Linked DNA regions of Homo sapiens: region 2 is linked to region 1. Evidence: fine-mapped QTL for protein levels in blood plasma. A gene starts in region 1. The other region holds a variant in brackets. All regions are shown on one strand. Distances are between the middles of the regions.

Region 1 (5,383 bases):
TTCTGTAAATGGGCTAATACGGTCCTTTATAGCATGTAAAGAACAAAAATAAGGAAGGATATAGCTTAAGGCTTCTACCTGTCAAAGCTGATAGCCTATCATATTACACATTTTAGAAAATATTGATCAAATTCAGGATGAAAAAATTAATACATGCATGTATATATAAATAAAAAGCTACTGTAGCAGATGCTGTTGGTACCCTACCCATATTCCTTCATCGCTCGCCTCTAAATGACAAAGGTAAACACCTGCAAATATTGCAAATGCTACAATTCCCTGCTTGAAAACCTTTACTTATGGCTGCAGGCGTGTGCTTAGCTTGCCCCCAGGGCAAGCTGGTAGTGCCAGAGAGCCAATGGGTTCAGAAGCTACCTTCATCATCAGCGATGGGTTTCCTTACCCCTTAATTGGACTAACTCTTTTTTTTTTTTTTTTTTTGGGGGACAGGCTCTCGCTCTGTCACCCAGGCTGCTCTTCAGCAGTGCAGTCTCTTCAGTGGTGCAATCTCACTTCACTGCTGCCTCTGCCTCCTGGGTTCCGGTGATTCTCGTGCCTCAGCCTCCTGAGTAGTTGGGATTACAGGCATGAACCACCATAACTGGCTTTTTTTTTTTTTTGTATTTTTAGTAGAGATGGGGCTTCACCATCATGGCTAGGCTGGTCTTGAACTCCTGACCTCAAGTGATCCACCCACCTCAGCCTCCCAAAGTGCTGGGATCACAGGTGTGAACCACCACACCTGGCTGGACTAACTCTTAATTGCAGAGTTCGTGTGCAATGTCTTTCAGAGTTCCTCATTAGAACTGAACTCAAATTGCCCACTGGAGTCTCTTGCTTGATAAAACACCCTTTATTGACTTTCTTTTCTCCCCAATCTCACTTTCCCACTTCCAGTGGTGCTTTCTAAGATTATCTCTTAAAACAAAAACAAAAACAAACTACTTGCAATTGAATTCTTGTTTCTGAATCTACTTCTGGGGGAACCCAAACTAAGAGAGCCGCTGAAATGGAATTGTATATTGAGAATTTAAGATGAGTCTATGGCATCTGGAATTTATGCAGTTGGAGCTGAATAAAAAATATTTCTTTCAGGAGTCAGGATCTTTGTCTCTGTGACAAAATTTCTTCCACACAAATCACTAAAGCTTTGAACAAAAGATGCGGAAGCTTTGTCTCTGGAAACCACCATTAATTTATGAGGGGAGGATAGGGGTTGTCTTTATTATTCCAGTGCTTTGGATATAGGAAGAAAAAGTCATTAAAGCTAGAAAATCTTCACTAATGGAATGTTTACTTATAAAATTATTCTTAACTCAAATTTTCTTTCCCGCTTAACATTTATTCTACCTCACTCATAATGCACTAGCAGCTAGTGTTAGAATATTTGGTCCAACAATACAAATAAAACTGTAGCTCAATTTTTTTTTTTTTTTTTTTTTTGAGATGGAATCTCACTCTGTCTCCCAGGCTGGAGTGCAGTGGTGCGATCTCAGCTCACTGCAACCTCCGCCTCCTGGGTTCAAGTGATTCTTCTCTCTCAGCCTCCTGAGTAGCTGGGACTACAAGTGCATGCTACCATGCCTGGCTAATTTTTTTGTGTTTTTAGTAGAGACGGGGTTTCACTGTATTGTCCAGGCTGGTCTCGAACTCCTGACCTCTTGGTCCGCTCGCCTTGGCCTCCCAAAGTGCTGGGATTACAGGCATGAGCCACCGCGCCTGGCCAACTGTAGCTCAGTTTCAATAGGAAATCTAAAATCTTGCAAAATAAGCAGCATTTTATTAAATGTATGAAGGTGATGTTGGGGACTTGCTAGAATCAATGCAAAGCTATGGGAAAATAAAGACCTGGTAGAATAAGACAAGATAAAAAGCAAAGGAGAGAAAATGGATGTGGATAATGACCCTGAGAAGAACTTTCCAACACAGTGATCTGATTATCAAAGGATTAAGTGAAGTTCTTGAGAAAATTAGTGATGTCCTCAAATATGTTTACAAAAATTGATATTCTTTCTGATTATTCTGTGAAAGTTAAGCATGAAGGGATGACTATTGGGTTGTATTAGGCTGTACTTTGGGGAAAAATTCTACTCCAGAACATTCTATTTAGATTTTGAGTGACAGAACTGCATTTAAATATTTTCTTTCATAAAATATTTAATCTCAAAGTCTGGCATATAACACCTTTTAAGAGAATCATGAAAACATCCACTTAGTTTAGTAGATTGAAACAAGAAGGAGGCTCATCCCTTGCCTTACAGAGTCTCCTTTGGTTGAAAATCACTTAAACATTGAACTGAGAACATTTGCTGTGTTTCCTGATTTATAGATATGTTTCTAAGAAACATATCTATAACTTCCAAACAGTCCCAGCTGGCTGTAGCTAAGGCTGTGTAATTGATAAGATGCATCTGGTTTCAAGGCACAGATTAAGTACAAGGTCAGGCTCTTGCTGTCGTTGGAGAATCCGGTTGGGGTAGGAGCTAAATCTCAGGACCACTTGCTCTATATATGAGTGCCAAGATAATCTAGAGCAGGGAGAGGCAGAGAGGCAGGCAGCCTGCTGGGCTCTTCCTGCTGTTGAAAACTTACCCGGCCCTTACAGAGGAAATCTTCCTCCTCTCTTCTGCCCTGAATGTTTTCCCAAACATGAAGGTAAGACAATAAATTCATTACTTTTGTAAATGAAGCTATCTTTTCAAATGAACGGGGGTAATATAAATGTAATTTAAACGAAGAGGTGTAATACCTAACTGAAAGACATCAAATAAATAGAAGGCCAGAGGAAAATACAGAAGAAAAAGACCTGGGGGTGATGTTTAGAAATCCTTATTTAAACATATTTAACAGTTCAGCCAAAGTGAATTCCTTTTTCTTATCTTGTGGTGAAATTATAGGTCCAGAGGTCTGGGAATCAGGAATTGGAGACAATGTTTATGAAAGTCCCGATAAAGTCATAAAGAAATACAATAGTACTATTGTTATTTCTTGGGAAAAACTTTCCTCTGGTGTATTTTTTTTTTTTTTTTTTGCTTGTTTGGATTAGGAGCCATGCAGTAGGGTCCTGCGATTTATCTAAGAGCTAATAGAAAAGCAAATTTGCAGGCTTGGAACTTGAGAATTTGAAATCCTGGATGAAAGAGTCAGCATTGTGAGAATAGAAGATATGAGTAGATGGAATAAAACTAAAGGTCTACCAAGTATACATGTTGGCCCAATGCAAAAAGGCCAAATATTAAAAAACAAAACAAAACACAACCAAAAAGCTATTCAACAAAAGATAAGACCAAAGATAGAAATCGCTATCATAGACTAAATCTCTGGAATGCAAAAATAAGTTGAGATTGCTATTCAAATTTTATTATTGTAAATTTTGGTATTTAAACTTTAAAAATGTTGCATTGTAAGACTGTAGGAATAATTTCACAGATCTGTCAGTGGCTAGATTGCTTCCATAGTCACTGTATTGTCCATTGGGGCACCGAATCCAAGCTCGCTCATTATTGGGGTTAGAGGAGGAGCAAGATATGGATCTTGATTAAGCCATGCCTTCTGTGAAATTAAATAATTAAAATTAAACACAAATAACAAAGTTAATTTGTTTAAAGTTATGATGGGCAGTCATAAAAAAGAATGAAATCATGTCCTTTGCAGCAACATGGAGGCAGATAGAGGTCATTATCCTAAGAAAATTAACGCAGGAACAGACAATCAAATACCCCATGTTCTTAATTTTTAAGTGGGAGCTAAATATTGGGTACTCATGGGCATAAAGATGGCAACACTAGACACTGCACTCCAGCCTGGGCAATAAGGTGAGACTCTCTCTCAAAAAAAAAAAAAACAAAAAAAAAACAAGAAAAGAAAATGATGCTCTTCTGAAAGTTATCTAGCCAAAATGTTTTTTCCTAATATTTGTGTTAACTATTAATCTTTTACTTTATTTTACAATAAGAAATCTTAATAATTGCTTTGTGCTTAAAAACATGTTTACAATCATTATTATAATATTTTACTGCTGTAATAATAAATATACTTCTATCCTTTAATTAGTTGACAAAATATCAACAAATAAAGCAATTAATTTTTTAAAAATTTTACATATAGGGGCTTTCCAGCAAAAATTGGGAAGCCTGATAGACAAGTTCTAAAACAACTGTAACACTAAAGCAATTATTTCACTCCAAGTCGCATGTAGAGTTCTTACCTGTATTTGAAAGTGGACATTCATATTTTTACAGTAAACCTGAAGGACATGCTTTGGTGATATGTGACAAAGAAGGGACACTTGTGAAAGCCTTGGGCTATCAAGAAGCTAGAAATGGTTTCTATGTCAGACTTTTTAAGAGGAAGCAATGTTTTGGCCCCACAGCCCCCACGTGAACTAAATTCAGAGAGACAGTCACAGGATTCCCTTTGGTTCTCTCTGTGTTCTTGGATAGGAAATAACTTGGATCTGAGGTGTTGGAGAAGGATGTCAGGGACAAGGGACTTCCCTCGGAGCTGGCTGTGGCCCAGCCATTTGTTCCGTCCCTCCAGGAGAGAGCTGAGCTTGGGGCCTGTGAATCTAGGGAATGGTCGTCACAGTGCCCAAGCACAGTGATGGTCAAGCACAGTAATGTCTCAAATCAGGATTGTAGCTGGGACATACTGGAAGAAGGAGGTAGAGCTAATGCTCATTCATTGATGATAAAGAGGAGAAGATAATTCAGGGGAATGTAGTTCCAGCTTAGCTACATTGACACAGAACAAAAATACCACACACTTTTTCTTTCTTTCTTTTTTTTTTTTTTTTGAGACAAAGTCTCACTCTGTTGCCCAGGCTGGAGTGCAGAGGTACGATCTCTGCTCACTCCAACTTCCGCCTCCTGGGTTCAAGCGATTCTTCTGCCTCAGCCTCCTGAGTAGCTGGGGCTACAGGCGTGCGCCACCATGCCTTGCTAATTTTTGTATTTTTTTTTTTTTTTTAGTAAAGATGGGGTTTCACCATATTGGCCAGGCTGGTCTTGAACTCCTGACCTCATGATCCACCTGCCTTGGCCTCCCAAAGTGCTGGGATTACAGGCATGAACCACCACGCCCGGCCCCACATACTTCTTCAACCAAGCAATTCTTTTATAGAGTCAGTTCAGATGTATGTCTATCACTGTCATTCACATGATTTATTTGTGTTTGTTCTATCTCTCTTGTTCATTTATAAGGTATTTTTTCCAAAGGTAATTATCCTAAGGCTAGCCAAATTTCAAGAAATGCTTTTGGTTAGTAGATTCACTTTGTATAACATGAACAGAACTGGTCTTGTAATAAGCAGACCTTGATGGGTTATAATGAGTATGTATATGAAGAAGGTGATGACAAAGGCATCCATGATGATAAAAAGTAT
Region 2 (5,383 bases), 73 kb after region 1:
TTGTATTATCCATATTGTGTACTCATTTTTTAAAAGTCTGACATAAAAATAACTTAAAAATGAAAACTTTATATCATGTCCTTAAAAGGAGGTATCACTTGCCATAAATACTAGGTAACTATAAAAGTTATATGTAATGGAACTAAATAAAGTTGTGGACTCTAGCCAGATACTGGTCCAACATTGACTATGCTGTTTCTCTGTGAGTTTAGCAAGTGTTAGAGGGGTGTTAAAAACATACTAGCACCAAGCTGACACTTTCTTCTAGAAGTAATCAGACGGATTTGAAGAGAATAAAAGAAGAAGTTACTTTCTCACGTTGTGATTCAATATTTGCTAACACTATGTTTAAGTAGTACTTACAGTGATCTTGAACTCCCCCAAGAGCACAGCAAACCTCCCATGATTTGGGCAGTACTATGAAAGTGGAATGGCTGGGTCTCCAGAGCCAAGTCACTGTCTGGGCTTCCCTATCTGTAAATTTAGGAGCTGGACTCTATGACTTGTAAGGTCTCTGTCGTCTCTTCACTCTCTGCCCTCCTGGCCTGTACCCGCTGGCACCTGTCCCCTCACTCCCTCAAGGTTTGCAGCACAGACTGATGACATACATATGTGACTCTAGCCATGTCTGGGTCACTTTTGGTTAGGTGGTCACCATTGTCTGCTGGCTGACCTTGTTACTCATCTTTGGAAGACTCCTGGCTGGTGTATTCCAACCATGGACTTTCCATGCACAGACTCCTTGCCTCCTTAACTCATTTCTGGTTTGTTTTTTGGGATTTGTAGCCTTTTGCATGCCATGCTCTCTCTCAAAGCAAGTTAAGTTCTCTTTTTTTCTCTCTCTCTTTGTTTGAGTCTTGACTTGGTTCTTTGTTGAGGGCTTCTCATTTGACCTCAGTTGCTGGCTTATATGGACAGCAGCATGTATGTAGGAGATAGTTGAAGAGCTCTTGACTTGGATAAAACCACCCCATGTGGTCTAACCAATATAAAGCCTGCTACCAACCTCAAAACCTATTTCTTTGGAGTGGAGCAAAATGCCCCAATTTCCTGGTCCTACTGCTTTTCCAGGGGATAATTTATTATGTCATTCCAGGCAGGAGCTTCTACAGCTCTGATCACCACATTATTACTTTGGAGGTGATGTTCTTTGACTCCCCGACCTCCACAATGTACCATTAAGCCTCTTTCACTTACTTTTCCAGCTGAGAGCAGCAAATGTGTCTGCCGAGAAGCATCGGAGTGCGAGGAAGAAGGGTTTAGCATTTGTGTGGAAGTGAACGGCAAGGAGCAGACGATGTCTGAGTGTGAGGCGGGCGCTCTGAGATGCAGAGGGCAGAGCATCTCTGTCACCAGCATAAGGCCTTGTGCTGCGGAAACCCAGTAGGCTCCTGGAGGCCCTGGTCAGCTTGCTTGGAATCCAGCAGGCAGCTGGGGCTGAGTGAAAACATCTGCACAACTGGGCACTGGACAGCTTTTCCTTCTTCTCCAGTGTCTACCTTCCTCCTCAACTCCCAGCCATCTGTATAAACACAATCCTTTGTTCTCCCAAATCTGAATCGAATTACTCTTTTGCCTCCTTTTTAATGTCAGTAAGGATATGAGCCTTTGCACAGGCTGGCTGCGTGTTCTTGAAATAGGTGTTACCTTCTCTGGGCCTTGGTTTTTTAAAATCTGTAAAATTAGAGGATTGCACTAGAGAAACTTGAATGCTCCATTCAGGCCTATCATTTTATTAAGTATGATTGACACAGCCCATGGGCCAGAACACACTCTACAAAATGACTAGGATAACAGAAAGAACGTGATCTCCTGATTAGAGAGGGTGGTTTTCCTCAATGGAACCAAATATAAAGAGGACTTGAACAAAAATGACAGATACAAACTATTTCTATCCTGAGTAGTAATCTCACACTTCATCCTATAGAGTCAACCACCACAGATAGGAATTCCTTATTCTTTTTTTAATTTTTTTAAGACAGAGTCTCACTTTGTTGCCCAGGCTGGAGCGCAGTGGGGTGATCTCATCTCCCTGCAACCTCCGCCTCCTGGGTTCAAGCGATTCTTGTGCCTCAGCTTCCCAAGCAGCTGGGATTACAGGTGCCCGCCACCACGCCCAGCTAATTTTTGCATTTTTAGTAGAGATGGGGTTTCACCATGTTGGCCACGCTCGTCTCCAACTCCTGACCTCAGGTAATCCGCCTGCCTTGGCCTCCCAAAGTGCTGGGATTACAGACATGAACCACCACGCCTGGCTGGAATACTTACTCTTGTCGGGAGATTGAACCACTAAAATGTTAGAGCAGAATTCATTATGCTGTGGTCACAGGGGTGTCTTGTCTGAGAACAAATACAATTCAGTCTTCTCTTTGGGGTTTTAGTATGTGTCAAACATAGGACTGGAAGTTTGCCCCTGTTCTTTTTTCTTTTGAAAGAACATCAGTTCATGCCTGAGGCATGAGTGACTGTGCATTTGAGAATAGTTTTCCCTATTCTGTGGATACAGTCCCAGAGTTTTCAGGGAGTACACAGGTAGATTAGTTTGAAGCATTGACCTTTTATTTATTCCTTATTTCTCTTTCATCAAAACAAAACAGCAGCTGTGGGAGGAGAAATGAGAGGGCTTAAATGAAATTTAAAATAAGCTATATTATACAAATACTATCTCTGTATTGTTCTGACCCTGGTAAATATATTTCAAAACTTCAGATGACAAGGATTAGAACACTCATTAAAGATGCTATTCTTCAGAATTGTTTCATTTGTATGATGTTTCATTTTAGAGAAGATTTTCATGATGAA[T/G]GGTTAATGTGTTCTTGCCTGAAGTTTTATGTCTGATCCAGATCTAGCTTTTTGTATCAAAGTGTGCCCTAAGGGAAGATGCAGATATAATATGTTGAAGTTACAAGGAGGCAGGTTTCAATTGGTTAAAAACAATGACATTCAGACATTGCAACTGCATTTGTTAGCGGTTATTACAGAGTTAATTTCTACCCTGGATGGGAGGACACATTTGAACATGCTAGGCCTGGATGCAGACCCTGAGACAAAAGGTTGAACAAGTAATTCATTTGGAAGGAAATACCTCAGTATCCTTCCAATAATTTCTCCTCTTAGCTTAAGCTAGTATGGAGTTAGATTCCTACCGCTTATGTATCACCATGCCCCCTTCCTAAATAATACAGAGGATATGGTCAGCATTATCACATATCATCAGAGATTGAGGTTTGAAAGAAAGGAAATGAGTAGATGTAACTAAGAGGTTTGAGAAAGGAATTTCAGCAGAGTTATTGAAGGAGAAGTCAAGGAGAGGAGAAGGAGAGGAGCAGTGAATGTTGTCGTGAAGAGGTGTTGTCTTGAAATACTGTATTTTTTTCCTCCTTTTCTTTTCTGAACATTCTTGTGCTGACCTTTCCTCTAGTCCAACAGAGGCATTCACAATTGCCTGTGGAGAATTAGGATTGTCGCAGCAGGTCAGCAAGGAGAAAGTCATTTTTAAGATTAAATTTTTAAAAATGTTTTGAAACTTCCAAAATAAGTTCTTGAACACCTATGGAGAGGCTTTGAGGAAAGTTAAGGGAATGATTTTATACCACAAAAATAAATGGAAAAAGAATAAAGACTGTGAGAATTCCATCTTCCTGCCCTTTCCTGTGCCTCAGATCAGGTGAGGGTCATCTGGGTTAGAAGGGGATAGAGCCTTGGAGGAGGCAGAGGGCAGAAAGCATTGCTGAGATTAGAGTCATTTGGCCCTCAGAAGGAACAGACAAAGAGAAGGAAATTGGCTGGTGCATTAATCATCACTAGCTTCAGGGAGCTATGTGGAGGCCAAGGCACATCCTACAGATCATCGCTTACCACTCATGAGGACGCTACAAGTTACCTGGGCAGAGAAGGTGCCTGAGAATATTTCCTAATCGTTTTGAGAAGTGCCTTCCTGTGACATCTTATGTATTTCCTAATTGATCAAAAGTAGTGCTGCTTCTCTAAGCCCTGAGATTTAATGAGCCCCATTCAAACTGTTATTAATGTAACCTTCTTTCCCAGTGCAGGATGACTTGTAATCACCTTGAAAGAGAAGGAGGGTTCTTCGTATTCAGGTAGGGTATGGTAGGGATGTGGAGTGCCAAGCAGGAAATCTGACAAGTGACCCCCGGAACTTTGGATTACCTAGCAACTAGCCAGGTAACTGGCTAATCTGATTGAGGGTTGCCCTCTTTGCTGGGCAGATCATGGCTAATCTCAGCTTCACATGAGTCTTGTGAACCATCTAGTTGTTTTGTAACTGCTAAGAGCTGCAAGTGCTGAGCAGCTGGTTTATACAGCATTCCCTGAAACAGCCTAGTATGTGTCCATTTATGTGCCCGGCTTATTATGTGTCCACTTATGTGTCCAATTAGTAATCACTTTTTCTTTCGGTCAAGGTATGTGTATTAATCAATATTTTTTGAACCCGTCCTGTCTCAGTCTGTTTTATGCTGTTATAACAGAATATCACCAACTGGGTAATTTATAATGAGCATAAATTTATTTGGCTGCTGGTTCTGAAGGCTGGGAAGTCCATGAGCATGGTGCTGGCATCTGGCAGGGCCTTCATGCTGCATCATCCTATGGCAAAACGTGGAAGGGCAAGAGAGAGCAAGAGGAAGCAGGGGCTGAACTCGTTTTTATAACAAAAGCACCCTCATGATAACTAACCCATTCCCGTTACAACAACACAATCCATTCATAGCAGCAGAGACCTCATGTCCTAATCACTTCTTATGAAGGCTTGCCTCCCAACACGTGCATTGGAGGTTAAGTTTCCAACACATGAACTTTGGGAAACACATGCAAACCACGGCACCATGGTTTATCATTATTCTGTATTTTCTTTATGTTCCTATTCACATTTCTTATACACACATACTCACCCACCACAGGCATTTGGATTATTTGGAGATAATACACACATACTCACACATAATACACACAAACTTACTCACTTATACACACATACTCACCCACCACAGGCATTTGGATTATTTTCACAGCATAATAGCTAGTGGAAGTGGTCATCATCATAAACTTGAAGAAAACTTAAGATATTGCATACTTTGGGCACAAGATGAAGTGGGTATTCAGGGGTATCCAATACTTCTCTTTCTCTTCTCTGAAGTAGAGCGGATAGACAAAGAAGAGAAGAGAAAAGAAAAGGGGAGGCAGGAGAGATAGAAAGAGAGAGATAAATTGGGCCATTCTTAGTATGGGATTGGCAGAACTGAGTAGCCATACCAGTCCACTGAGATTTTTCTTCCTTGATGGACTAGTTAAAGCGTACTCAATACTTGTGTTAGAAACAGAATGGCTTGTTTCTTTCTCAGAACACTAAGCCAGAAAAGCG

Which allele goes with the higher level. Positions count from the first base shown, and alleles are read on the strand shown. Strength reflects both the effect of a copy and how common the allele is.
In carriers of allele G in region 2, the plasma level of the protein whose gene starts at base 2,536 in region 1 tends to be lower than with T alone (strong association).

Evidence for each region. A credible set is the group of variants that fine-mapping cannot tell apart. PIP is the chance, under the fine-mapping model, that this variant and not a neighbour inherited with it causes the effect. The UK Biobank Pharma Proteomics Project read protein levels with antibody pairs (Olink). The fine-mapping took linkage between variants from a reference panel, not from the people measured, so its PIPs are less certain.
Region 2: its variant is the best candidate, but not a certain one, in a credible set for the plasma level of the C7 protein (UK Biobank, PIP 0.71).

The regions. Positions count from the first base shown.
Region 1 is chr5:40,906,962-40,912,344 of GRCh38, forward strand. C7 (complement C7) reads left to right here and starts at 2,536. Exons shown (of 18, transcript NM_000587.4): 1 at 2,536-2,655. The coding sequence starts at 2,650. It also overlaps the pseudogene RNU7-161P.
Region 2 is chr5:40,980,187-40,985,569 of GRCh38, forward strand. C7 (complement C7) reads left to right here. Exons shown (of 18, transcript NM_000587.4): 18 at 1,206-4,457. The coding sequence ends at 1,387. Among named protein-coding and RNA genes, the nearest start is that of C7, 73 kb to the left of the region's middle. The variant T/G (reference allele first, on the strand shown) is at 2,803.